Linked DNA regions of Homo sapiens: region 1 is linked to region 2. The links come from fine-mapping of genetic effects on gene expression. Tissue or cell type: prefrontal cortex. Region 2 holds a variant in brackets; the other region holds the start of a gene. All regions are shown on one strand. Distances are between the middles of the regions.

Evidence for each region.
Region 1: it holds the start of LINC02813, and the variant in region 2 is fine-mapped to the expression of LINC02813 in prefrontal cortex (ROSMAP, PIP 0.95).

What each region holds. Positions count from the first base shown.
Region 1 is chr1:224,762,558-224,767,930 of GRCh38, reverse strand. LINC02813 (long intergenic non-protein coding RNA 2813) reads right to left here and starts at 2,741. Exons shown (of 3, transcript XR_001738495.2): 1 at 778-2,741. LOC124904523 (a long non-coding RNA gene) reads left to right here and starts at 4,963. Exons shown (of 2, transcript XR_007066898.1): 1 at 4,963-5,090; 2 at 5,171-5,373.
Region 2 is chr1:224,736,984-224,742,356 of GRCh38, reverse strand. CNIH3 (cornichon family AMPA receptor auxiliary protein 3) reads right to left here. Exons shown (of 6, transcript NM_152495.2): 6 at 1,803-3,028. The coding sequence ends at 3,001. Among named protein-coding and RNA genes, the nearest start is that of CNIH3-AS1, 9.1 kb to the right of the region's middle. RefSeq lists an enhancer at 5,116-5,165. The variant G/A (reference allele first, on the strand shown) is at 2,842.

The DNA.
Region 1 (5,373 bases), 26 kb before region 2:
TTAAGACCACTTGCAGCTACCTCCAGCCATAATTGCAATTATAATTGGATGCAATTATTTGCTAAGTGTGCTTACAAATTTACCAGAGAGGCTAGATTAATTGTGGTTCATAATACCGTAAAGCCTCCCATCATGTTAAGATGCCACTTAATTCCTTCATTCTTCTAAGCTAATTAATCCACAGGCAACATGCACTTAATAGTCTCTGAATAATTACCAAGCTGGTCCAGTCTTTGCTAAGGTCAGCCCAAGCGGGCAGTCTTGTGGGGTCCTTCAGGCCTACAGTGCATGTAGAGCTGCCTTCTCTAGTGTCTTCTTCTCACTGCCTCATTGTCAGCAGGTGAACCAAGCCCCTCTCCTCAAAATAACGTTTCTGGAAGTTTCTCTATTCTTTTTTTAATGATAAGAGACATGGTAGCAGAAATAACTTCTGCTCCTGCAAAATCACCCTTTTAATTCCTAAACTCAACTTCTCCATCAGCTGCAGGGGTGATGGAAGGAGGGGCTGGAGGCAGGGAACTGTCATGCAGGTTGCATTAAATCCCATTCTGTGTGCAATTAGACAGCCTTGTACAGATTTCTGGAAAGGCCACCTGCCCCTTCCTTGCACAGCCTGCTTTAGCTCTGCAGATTACTCTGCTTCTGCAGCTCTCCTCCCACCAGCACCCTCTTGCCTCCCCCAGCCTTGCACTTCACAGCCGTTGCCAGCCAGCATCCCCGCACTGTAACAAAAGCATGCATTTTGGTTCACAAAACAGCTTTCCATCTCATTTTTACCTGGGAACAAGTCAGTGACTTGATATCATAGGAGGTGTCTTCTCCATTTTACGAATAGCAGAAATGAGGCTCTGGGAGTTGTAGTGACTTGCCCCAGGCAGAACCCAGACTCAAGCTTCCTGACTGCACACATGCAGGCACTTGGCGGACCACTCAGCCTCTTGGGGCACTTGAAAGTCTTCTGGATAAACCTCCTGAGATCTGGTGCACCCTGACCCACCAGCCCCATTGTTGAAAATTCCAGATTAGAGATCTTTCATTTGGTTGGGGCGTTGGGTCTGAGTTAAAATGCACTGCCCTTGGAAGAGGTGGCACGTTAGGCTTCCATTGGATACTGAGAACATATTGATTAGCCTCCATGCTCAGAATGCCCCTCACAAAGTGGAGACGGGGGGCTTAGGAAAAGAAGTCAGTTTTCTTGAGGATCAGGAAAGGAAAGGTGGAGTGGGGCAGGAAACCCCAGAACTGGGGCATTGAGAACACCATGGCATCTGGGATGGGTGAGTGACATGAAAGTGATCAGAGAAGGAGAGGAAGGCAACATCAACTCCAGACCTCATTAACTACCTATTCCATAGACTGTACAGGCGCCACCTGACTTGAAATTCCCTCTCTGCTTAGGTCTAAAAGGCCAGGGACACAACCCGCTGCCAAAGAGGGGCAGGTGAGACAATCAAGCAGGAGCCCCCAGTTTGTCTTGCCCTCAGATCCTGCCTCTGCTTTTGCACAACACTGACTGCACGGTGGGGAAGCTGACACCTTTCCCCATGCATTGACCTAACACAGCCAAAACCTTCCATCTGTGTGGTCAAGGCGAGGAGTGAAGTCACAAGCAATCTCATTGTCATTAAGCTCATGCAGAAGAACTTGGAATCCCAGAAGATTAGAATCCAGTCTTAGTGTCTACATCCTACTATGTCTTATTCCCCCTATTCAAGCATTAACTTGCTTGGAGAAAAGACTGTTTCTCTTTTCATCCTTTTCTTACCACCTCCCTACCCAGCACAGATTCCCCTCAAAGCTAACAAAGTCTGCCTTATGTGCTTAGAAAATAAAACTTAAAAAAAAGCTTAGTTAAATATATGAAAGAAATGAACACATTGAAGCTGTCTTCCCTAACTCTACACTTTGGTAGTGTCTTATGGAGAGTGGGAACAGAGTCTTAGTCCTCTCTGCATCGTAAGTACTGGCTCGATGCCTGACGCGCAATACATGCTTGTTGAACATCCACTGGATGCTGCTGCTCCATTGTCCCTTCTTTGGTCTTCATGGTTTCTCAGGCTGTCTGTGGATGTTTCTTGCTCTTCTGGGGCTAAGGCTCATGCTTTCCACAATGAGGAGGCTGACACCCCCGTGCTACTGTGCACCTGCTTACTGCCAGCATGATCTCATGTGTCTCTGCTTCTTCTTCTTCCCATATCACATCTGTTCTTCCAGCTCCCCACGTCTAACCTTCTTCCCTTAGACATATTCTCCAAGTAGCTCCTCCTTGTCCTTCTCCCACTTGCTGTATCCCCTTCACCAGCCCAGCTCGCCTACTAACTCCTTCGCTGACCACTCAGGTCCCACTAAAGTGGTGGCTCCATTTTCTAAATTCTCAGTGTGTTTCCAGTCTGAGCCACATGGTTTAGCCCTCTGCCAACGGTGTGCTGCATTATCTTTGGTGATCTGTGCTCCATAAGCAAGTTGAGCCTGCCTATCCTCACACTGTGCTCCTCCAACCCATCTGCCCCTCCTTCCAGCAGTGGAAACAGAAAAGATGCCCAATTATTGGGTAGCAATTATTCATTTTCATGCCCTGGGCTTACACATGAGAAGAAAGTATAGTATCATGAAGTATTTCTCAAAGGATGGAAGTCATGTCACTTAAATCATATTCTCCTGGCAGAGGGATAAAGAGGAACCTGTTAAAAATTCAGATTCCTGGAGAAATAGGAACGCTTTTACACTGTTGGTGGGAATGTAAATTAGGCCAACCGTTGTGGAAGGCAGTGTGGTGATTCCTCAAAGACCTAGAACCAGAAATACCATTTGACCCAGCAATCCCATTACTGGGTATATACCCAAAGGAATATAAATCATTCTATTATAAAGATGCATGCATTCATATGTTCATTGCAGCACTGTTCATGATAGCAAAGACATGGAATCAACCCAAATGCCCACCAATGATAGACTGGATAATGAAAATGTGGTACATATACACCATGGAATACTATGCATCCATAAAAAGGAACAAGATCATGTCCTTTGCAGGGACATGAATGAAGCTGGAAGCCATTATCCTCAGCAAACTAACGCAGGAACAGAAAACCAAACACTGCATGATCTCACTTATAAGTGGGAGCTGAACAATGAGAACACATGGACACAGGGAGGGAAACAACACACACTGGGGCCTGTCATGGGGGGTGCAGGGAAAGGGAGAGCATCAAGATAAATAACTAATTCATGCAGGGCTTAATACCTAGGTGATGGGGTTGATAGGTGCAACAAACTACCATGGCACATGTTTACCTATGTAACAAACCTGCACGTCCTGCACATGTATTCCAGAACTTAACATTAAATTAAATTGAATTTTTTTAAAAAATTCAGATTTCTGGGCCTTGCCTCAAGCCCATCAGAATCTTTGAAGGTGGGTCCAGGATCTGAGTTATCACAAACTACCCCAGATGATTCCTAAGCAAACCGGCAAAAGAGCTACTAAATTAGTGGTTCGGAGCCTGGGTCAACCATTGTTGATCCAGGCCTGGGGGCCTGACTGGGGGCTTGACTGGGTTAGACTCTCAGCCAATTTATTTACTTCCCTGTACTTTACTTAATCATCAATAAACTGGAGGCAAAAATAGCCCCCACCTCAAAGGACTGTTGTGAAGATAAGAAAAACACTGAGCAGGAAGCTTGGCAAAGAGTAAGTGCTCAATAAACAACACTTTGGAGCTTTTGAAGAAAGAAAATTCTTCACAATTCTTGCTGTTTCCTTCCAAGTGGAGGGAGCCCCATTAGCACAACACTGTCAGCATCTCTCTACCACTGCACTCACTCTGCCACAGGGAAAGTCGTGTGATACCTCATCGATTAACTTGGGAAGAGCAAATTGGAAATGCTTGGCTCAGTTGCTCCCTTTTCCTCTTAAGAATAAAGCTGTCAGATGGCACAGTGGCTCATGCCTGTAATCCCAGCACTTTGAGAGGCCAAGGCAGGAGGATTACCTGAGGTCGGGAGATCGAGACCAGCTTGACCAACGTGGAGAAACCCCGTCTCTACTAAAAATACAAAATTAGCTGAGCATGGTGGCACATGCCTGTAATCCCAGCTACTGAGGAGGCTGAGGCAGGAGAATCGCTTGAACCCAGGAGGTGGAGGCTGCAGTGAGCTGAGATTGTGCCATTGCACTCCAGCCTGGGCAACAAGAGCAAAATTCCGTCTCAAAAAAAAAAAAAAAAGGAACTGTCCCCAAATAGTACACATCCTCCATTGTTCTTCCAGGAGCGAACTCTATCCTTGTATGAGAACGAAGTCAGGGGTAAGGGAGGAGGAGGAAGCTGATGTAACTCTGATCCACCCTGCTTCACTCTTCCCAGGCCCAGCTGGGCTATGATTGCGTGAGTTACCAAACCTAATTCCAGGATTCAGTAGTAGGAAACTATAGTGGCATGGCCCCATTTACTGTCACTGCTTGTAACCCACTGGGGACTTTGTGCTTCCTATCCCTTCTATTCTGGGCTTTTCAGGTTTAGAGGTCCAGGTTCCAGAGGGGGAACCTTCCTACCAAAGGATGTAGCACATGCTGCCAGGACACTTGGGGCCTGTGCCAAGGAACCTCACAAGAAGCGGAGTCACCATCTTGGCAGAGGAAATTGGCCCTGACCAGCAGGAGGAAAGACAGCTGCTGTGCCCAGTAGGGACAAAGAAATCTGGCACCCAGATGATCCACTGTGCACCTCCTGGCACTTCCTCTGACCAGTTTTGATGATCAATGGGCAAGTTCATCAACCAGAGCCTGAGGAAGGCATAATGTCCAGGGACTGGAGTCATTAGAGATGAGGGTCTAGGTCACACCAACCGGCAAGAAGTGTGACTCAACCAGCAGAGGTGTTTCCTGAGGATGAGAGAGACAATGAGTATCAGTTGTGATGGAAGCTGTAGTTTGTCCCACTAATCTTTATTTTACCCTGCCAGGGAACAAGGCTGTGGGAATGCTGGAGATGCTGCTTCCGGAAATGTATGAAATATAGGTCCATGCAGTGAATGCTGTCATGAGCCTCCAAGATCCATCTTGGGGACTGAAGGTCTTCTCTCCCTCCATGGTGAGTGCTGCTGGCTGACAGCCCTCAGCGAATAGCCCTCTCTGGGAATTGCCTTTGACCAAAGATTGCTGCCTCCCCAGGTCACACCTCCTTTTCAGAAGCAGCCTGAACCCAATGACCAGCCCATATAGAAGTATAAAGATTCAAGAGAACAATTGTACAACATGGTGACTTTCATTAATAACAATCTATTGGAGTCTTGAAAATCGCTAAGAGAGTAGATTTTAAGTGTTCTTACCACAAAAAATGGTAAGTACGTGAGGTAATGCATATGTTAAATAGC
Region 2 (5,373 bases):
TACTTGCAGGTATGAACTCATCTAATCTTTATAGAAAGCCAGTGTGGTAGGTGCCATTATTCTTCCACCTTAGCAAAGCGAAAAGTGAGCTTTAAGTGACTCTTCCAGGTTCCCCTCTGACCCTTTGGGCACAGCCACACCAGGCCTATAGCTCTACCTCTCTAAAGAATGGGAACCAGTTCACCAACACCATCTTCAGGAGCTGACTCTGCCCCACTGGGAAGCTCTCTCCTTGACGCATGCTTGGAAAGGTGAGCTTTTTGTCTCTCAAGGAAAATATTCACTTTGTATTTTGGAAAACAGAGGAGTTTCTCCTGCTTTTCCTCTCTTCTTCCCTTTGGTCACTTCTGTGGGATACACAATAAGAGACTGGGCAATAAGAACAAAATTATGTGAGAAGAGGCGGACTTGGGTTTAAATCCCAGCTACAGCTAGACATACCCGTTGCTAGCTGTGGCTCTCTGCAAGTGACTCCTCTTCTCAGTTTCCTCATCTATAAAAGAGAGATCATATCCACCTTGTGGTACTGTCATGAGGATCAGGGAAAAGCATATGAAGCATCTAGATCACTGCCAGGTGCCTTGGTTTATAACTGTCATTATTTGGCCACTTCTTCGTAGCATCAAGGCCTTGTTCTGCGCTACTTCACCTAGGGAAGACTCACCTTCCCTGAGGCTCCCTAGTTCTCTCATGGGTGACGTGGGGACGAGAACAGCTAACCTGCTGTGCATGATCACTGTGAGGGGTGGGTGAGGTCACCCCGTGAGCATTTAACACAGTGCCTGGCGCACAGCACGTGCCCCATCAACTGTGCCCTTTACTCTTATCTTTATCATCATGATTAGCTTCTCCCAGGAACTGAAAATTCACTGAAACTCCCAACAGATCACGAGAATTACTTCCCAATCACAACTTGTCGGAGGGAAATATCTGGATGTTTCTCTTTCATAAACATAAGAGCTGTCAGGCCAGTGGCAGTGGCTTAGCCTATAATCCCAGCACTTCGGGAGGTGAAGGTGAGCAGATTGCTTGAGTCCAAGAGTTTGAGACCAGCCTGGGCAACATGGCAAAACCCCATCTCTACAAAAAATACAAAAATTAGCCAGACATGGTGGTGTGCACCTGTAGTCTACTCGGGAGACTGAGGTGGGAGCAACACCTGAGCCCAGGAGGGTCAAAGCTGCAGAGAGCCATGACTGCACTACTGCACTCCAGCCTGGGCGACAGAGTGAGACCCTATCTCAAAAAAAAAAAAAAAAAAAAAGACATTTCTACTTCCATTTTAATGGTCTTTGTGTACTTGTGTCTCCTATTATGAGCCACTACAAATCTTTCTGAAAGAAGACAGAGTATAGAAACAAAACAGCTCCATGGTGAGAAGTAACACAGACCATTCACCTTCTACATCCAGTTGCATTTGCAGGACGGCTGTGCGATTAGATTAGCGTCTGCAGCCTGCCATCCAAGGCTTGCCTCTCTGGATGAGGGTCACTAGTCTTCTCAGGAATGAAGCCAAAGCCAGGCCCAAGCAGCCGAAAGGTAACTCTATCCCTAACAACAGTTACCTGGTCGGTAAAAAGGGCATTGGCCAAGAGGAAGCCTTCTCCCAAAATCATCACCTCAAATTCTCCAGTTTTATACCATAAACCTCAGAGTAAAAGTCTGCATTTTGTTTTCCACAGAATTTTTAGCAGCATGATGCCTTTTTGAAAATTTGCCTTTTCTTCCTATCAGTTTTCCAACCATATGTAGACAAATTCAGCTGTAATGGTTGAAATGAGAGAGCCAGTTAAGTGAGACACTCAAGTTGTCGCTGCATTTTAATAAACATAGCACACAATGTGTTGCTACACAAACACCATTCATAAACCTGAGTCACAGGTTTCAGATGGGAGCTGGGGACGTGTATAAATAGCCTGTGTATGTTAAACAGTAGAAAAGAAAAGAAGTTTGGGGAATAAGGTCAAAATCATTGTGCCCAATTTAAACATCATAAAAATCTCAGCCTTGTCATTATTTACAACCCCCAGCATAACTCCCACCCAAAAGAGAATGCCAAACGGAAAATTCTAAATAAGATGATGTCCTCACGTCGACCTAAACAGTACAAATGATGCAGCATCATAAAACAAAGTTATAATTATGTTGTCTCACTTCCTGGCTGCCGGATGCCCACGGTACAGAGCAGCCACTCCACAGGATTTTCTGAGCTCTGAGCTGTCTGGGGTTTTTGTAAGAACATAGCTTTGACTAGCATTGACCAATTGATTTGCATTTAAAGACTCTGTGATGGTTTGAGGTGGCAAAAGAAGAATACAACTTGTGTGGTGGAGAACTAACACCTTGATCATGTTGCAAACGTTTCAAAAATGCATTTTTCCTATATTCACCCCTCCTCAGCTGAAAATAGCCCAGCAGGCTCAAGGCTGGTTGCAGCTGAAGACAAATCCCACACACCCTCCAGCCCCTCCCATTTGAGAAAAAGGGCATGGCCATGGCTTGGAAGAAAGGCAACAAGAGTCTTGGGCAGCCAAGACATTCTCGAGGCTTTCAACAGGTCCCTGCAGACTTGGCCTTGACTCTGGGTCATTCTGTTCCTTAGCAAGCACCTTGTGGCCTTCCAGCCTCCGCTCCCAGGAACTCATTTGAACTTGCAAGGTGCTGTTCAATGAAGTGGATTCAGGAAGCAGCAATTCTCTCTCAGGAGAGGTCTAGTGTTTCGTCACCTACTCCCCCACACCACTGATGCTCAGAAGGGCTCTAGGACCCCGTGTGTGGAATTCGAATGCCAAAGATTGACAAACAGGGTGACACAGACACGCAGGGTTAACTCGGCTCCCA[G/A]CTGCTGCGTGATTCCAGCTCCCATTCAGTCTGACTGCCTGCCGGGTCTATTTCTCACGTATCCTCATTCTGGTCCCTCCTCCAGTCACCAGCAGAAATGCACCTCTCCGTCTCAGGCCTCTCCCATCTCAGTCTCTGATGATGTGCATGGTCTTTGCGTTAAGAGCTCACTAAAGTGTAGATCATGCTGAATGCAAAAAAAAAAAAAAAAAAAAAAAAAGAGAGGAAGGTGTTAGTAGAAGCCCACAGAGGACTCAGGCTGCCCCTCAGGAGAGGGACCTTCCAGAGGCCAGACCCCTTGGCTTCTCCCTCATTCCTGTCACTACAGCATCTCGCCAACTCCACTACTGTGCCCCTTCTACTTCCCACAACACTGGAATAAAAATTTTTTGGGAGAGCATATTGTATCCCTTGGATAAAAGATGTGAAAGCTCTAAGTGCCTATTATCATTCTCATCAGGATGATGATTATGGTTGTTTTCCTTTTTGTGCAATTGCAGGGCAGGTCTGGGGGTGGAGGTGGGGGTGCAGTGGATTCTTTATGCCACCAGCTGCCATGTGCTTGCATGATGGCTGTGTCCAGGGGCTCCCAGATGATGCTGGATAATACGGTAGTGCTGGGGGAAAGATCATCATCACTACTGCAAAGGCCAGCGTGGGAACATAAGCCCTCTGGGCACCAGAACTCAATGAATTCTTGATTGGGTAACTCCCTGGCCCTCTTATTTTTAATGGACTCCAGGAATTAAACATGCATTAAAAGTGTGTGACCTAAAGTATTGCCCCAATACTACTAAGAGTGGGGTGAAGGGGACATGTATCCCTGTGCGCTTAGTAAGGGCTTCAGGGTAATTTTGCAAGGCTGAGGAATGATCTGCACCAAAATATACCTCTTTGTCTATTTCGCAGAAAAAGAAACCAACTATCTTTTCACATTATAGTGAGAAAAAAAGATTCATCTAAGAAGTAAAACCAAAGGAAAGAAATGAAAAGGTTTGACTTCTAACCCTTTGCAGCTGTGGATGCCCAATGAGCTCCTCTGAGTAGCTCAAGTTCCATCTTCAGGAACCTCACACACCTCATGTACACAGAGAACCACTGGTCAGACCTGGAGCAAGAGGGACTTACTCTACTTGGGGAAGCTGAGGGCCAGATGAGGAGTGACAGCAGGGCGAGAAGCCACATTCTAACTCCAAAGCCAGTGCTTTTTGCATAACAGTACTAAGCCTCAAGTGGATACCTTTGTTTACTCACTTTCATTCGTTATGCCAGACACTATTCTCAGTGCTGGGGAAAATGGTGAGTGTGCAGCCCCAATTCCTGCCTTGAGGAAGCATACAGCTAAGCTGTAACAACAAACCACGAGGATTCAGTGAGTGCCAGGCACGGGCCAGGACACTGCAGACGCAGAGGTGAATGAAACCAACATGGTCTCCAGTGTCAAGGAACAAGTAAATCATAAATAACATAGATGGAGAGAAATAAACCTGAGGAGGAACAGGCATGATCCAGAATAACCACGCAGGAGGGTGGTCCTACTACTTCAGGTCGGAAAAAAATCTTTCTACAGAGCAGACACTGTTCACACTGGGCTCACTAGCTAGTATTAGTATCTGCATTAGCTAGTCCCCTTCTAACACAACCCTCAAATATCACCTGGTCCACAAGGCAACCTGAGAAGTGGGGTGATGGGTGCCATGCGGTTCAAACAGGATAGAAGAAAGAGCACAGGCTCTGAAGCCAGATGTTGCTAATTATTAGCAGGGACCTGAGACACATTTCTTAACCTCTCCGAAGTCCTCAGGAGCCCCTCAGGGAGCTCAAACTATAAACTATCAACCCCGTCTTCCCCGCTGTTGTGTGGGTCTCTAGCCCTGAGCTCAGTTCAGACATGGCTCTGCATACACGAGTCCCCTTCCCTCCCTCCCACGGTGGCCTGCGCTGACGCTGCTGTGCTCTCCACCAGCTCCGGATCTGAGGGGCTGGCAGCTCCTAAGGTGGGAGAAACAGAGTCTTTTAAGCAGCCCCAAAGAGCACCAAGGGGCCAGATTCAACAAAGAATGTGGGTGCCCGTGGCGGCCACCCAGGGTCCCAGTGAGGCTGCAGGAACTGTTTCCAATTTTGTTTTAGAAACAGAGTGATTAACACATGTATCATGAAGGCAGGGCCAAACTGAAGTAATGAATTAGAGGACAAACAGTCAAACAGACTGTCTGGAACACACTCGGTTACAGAACAATCACACCCATCTAACCGAGAGGAGCTGCCAAGACCTCCCTACCCCACCCCCTCCCACCCCCGCAGCGGAGCACGCACAGCCGCTTCCCTCCCTGTGAACTCATATGGCTTCTTCCCTGCGACGCCTCGGCTCCAGCAGTTACTGCAACAAAACTGAAATGAGGGAAAGTCTCGCCTCTGTCTTCATCCACACTGAGGTGGATCCCAGGCTAAAGGGGCAGGAGCTAATGAAAACAATGGTCTCATTCTGTTGGCTTAGAGGAGAGACAGTGCTGTCTCTGGGGACAGGCCACT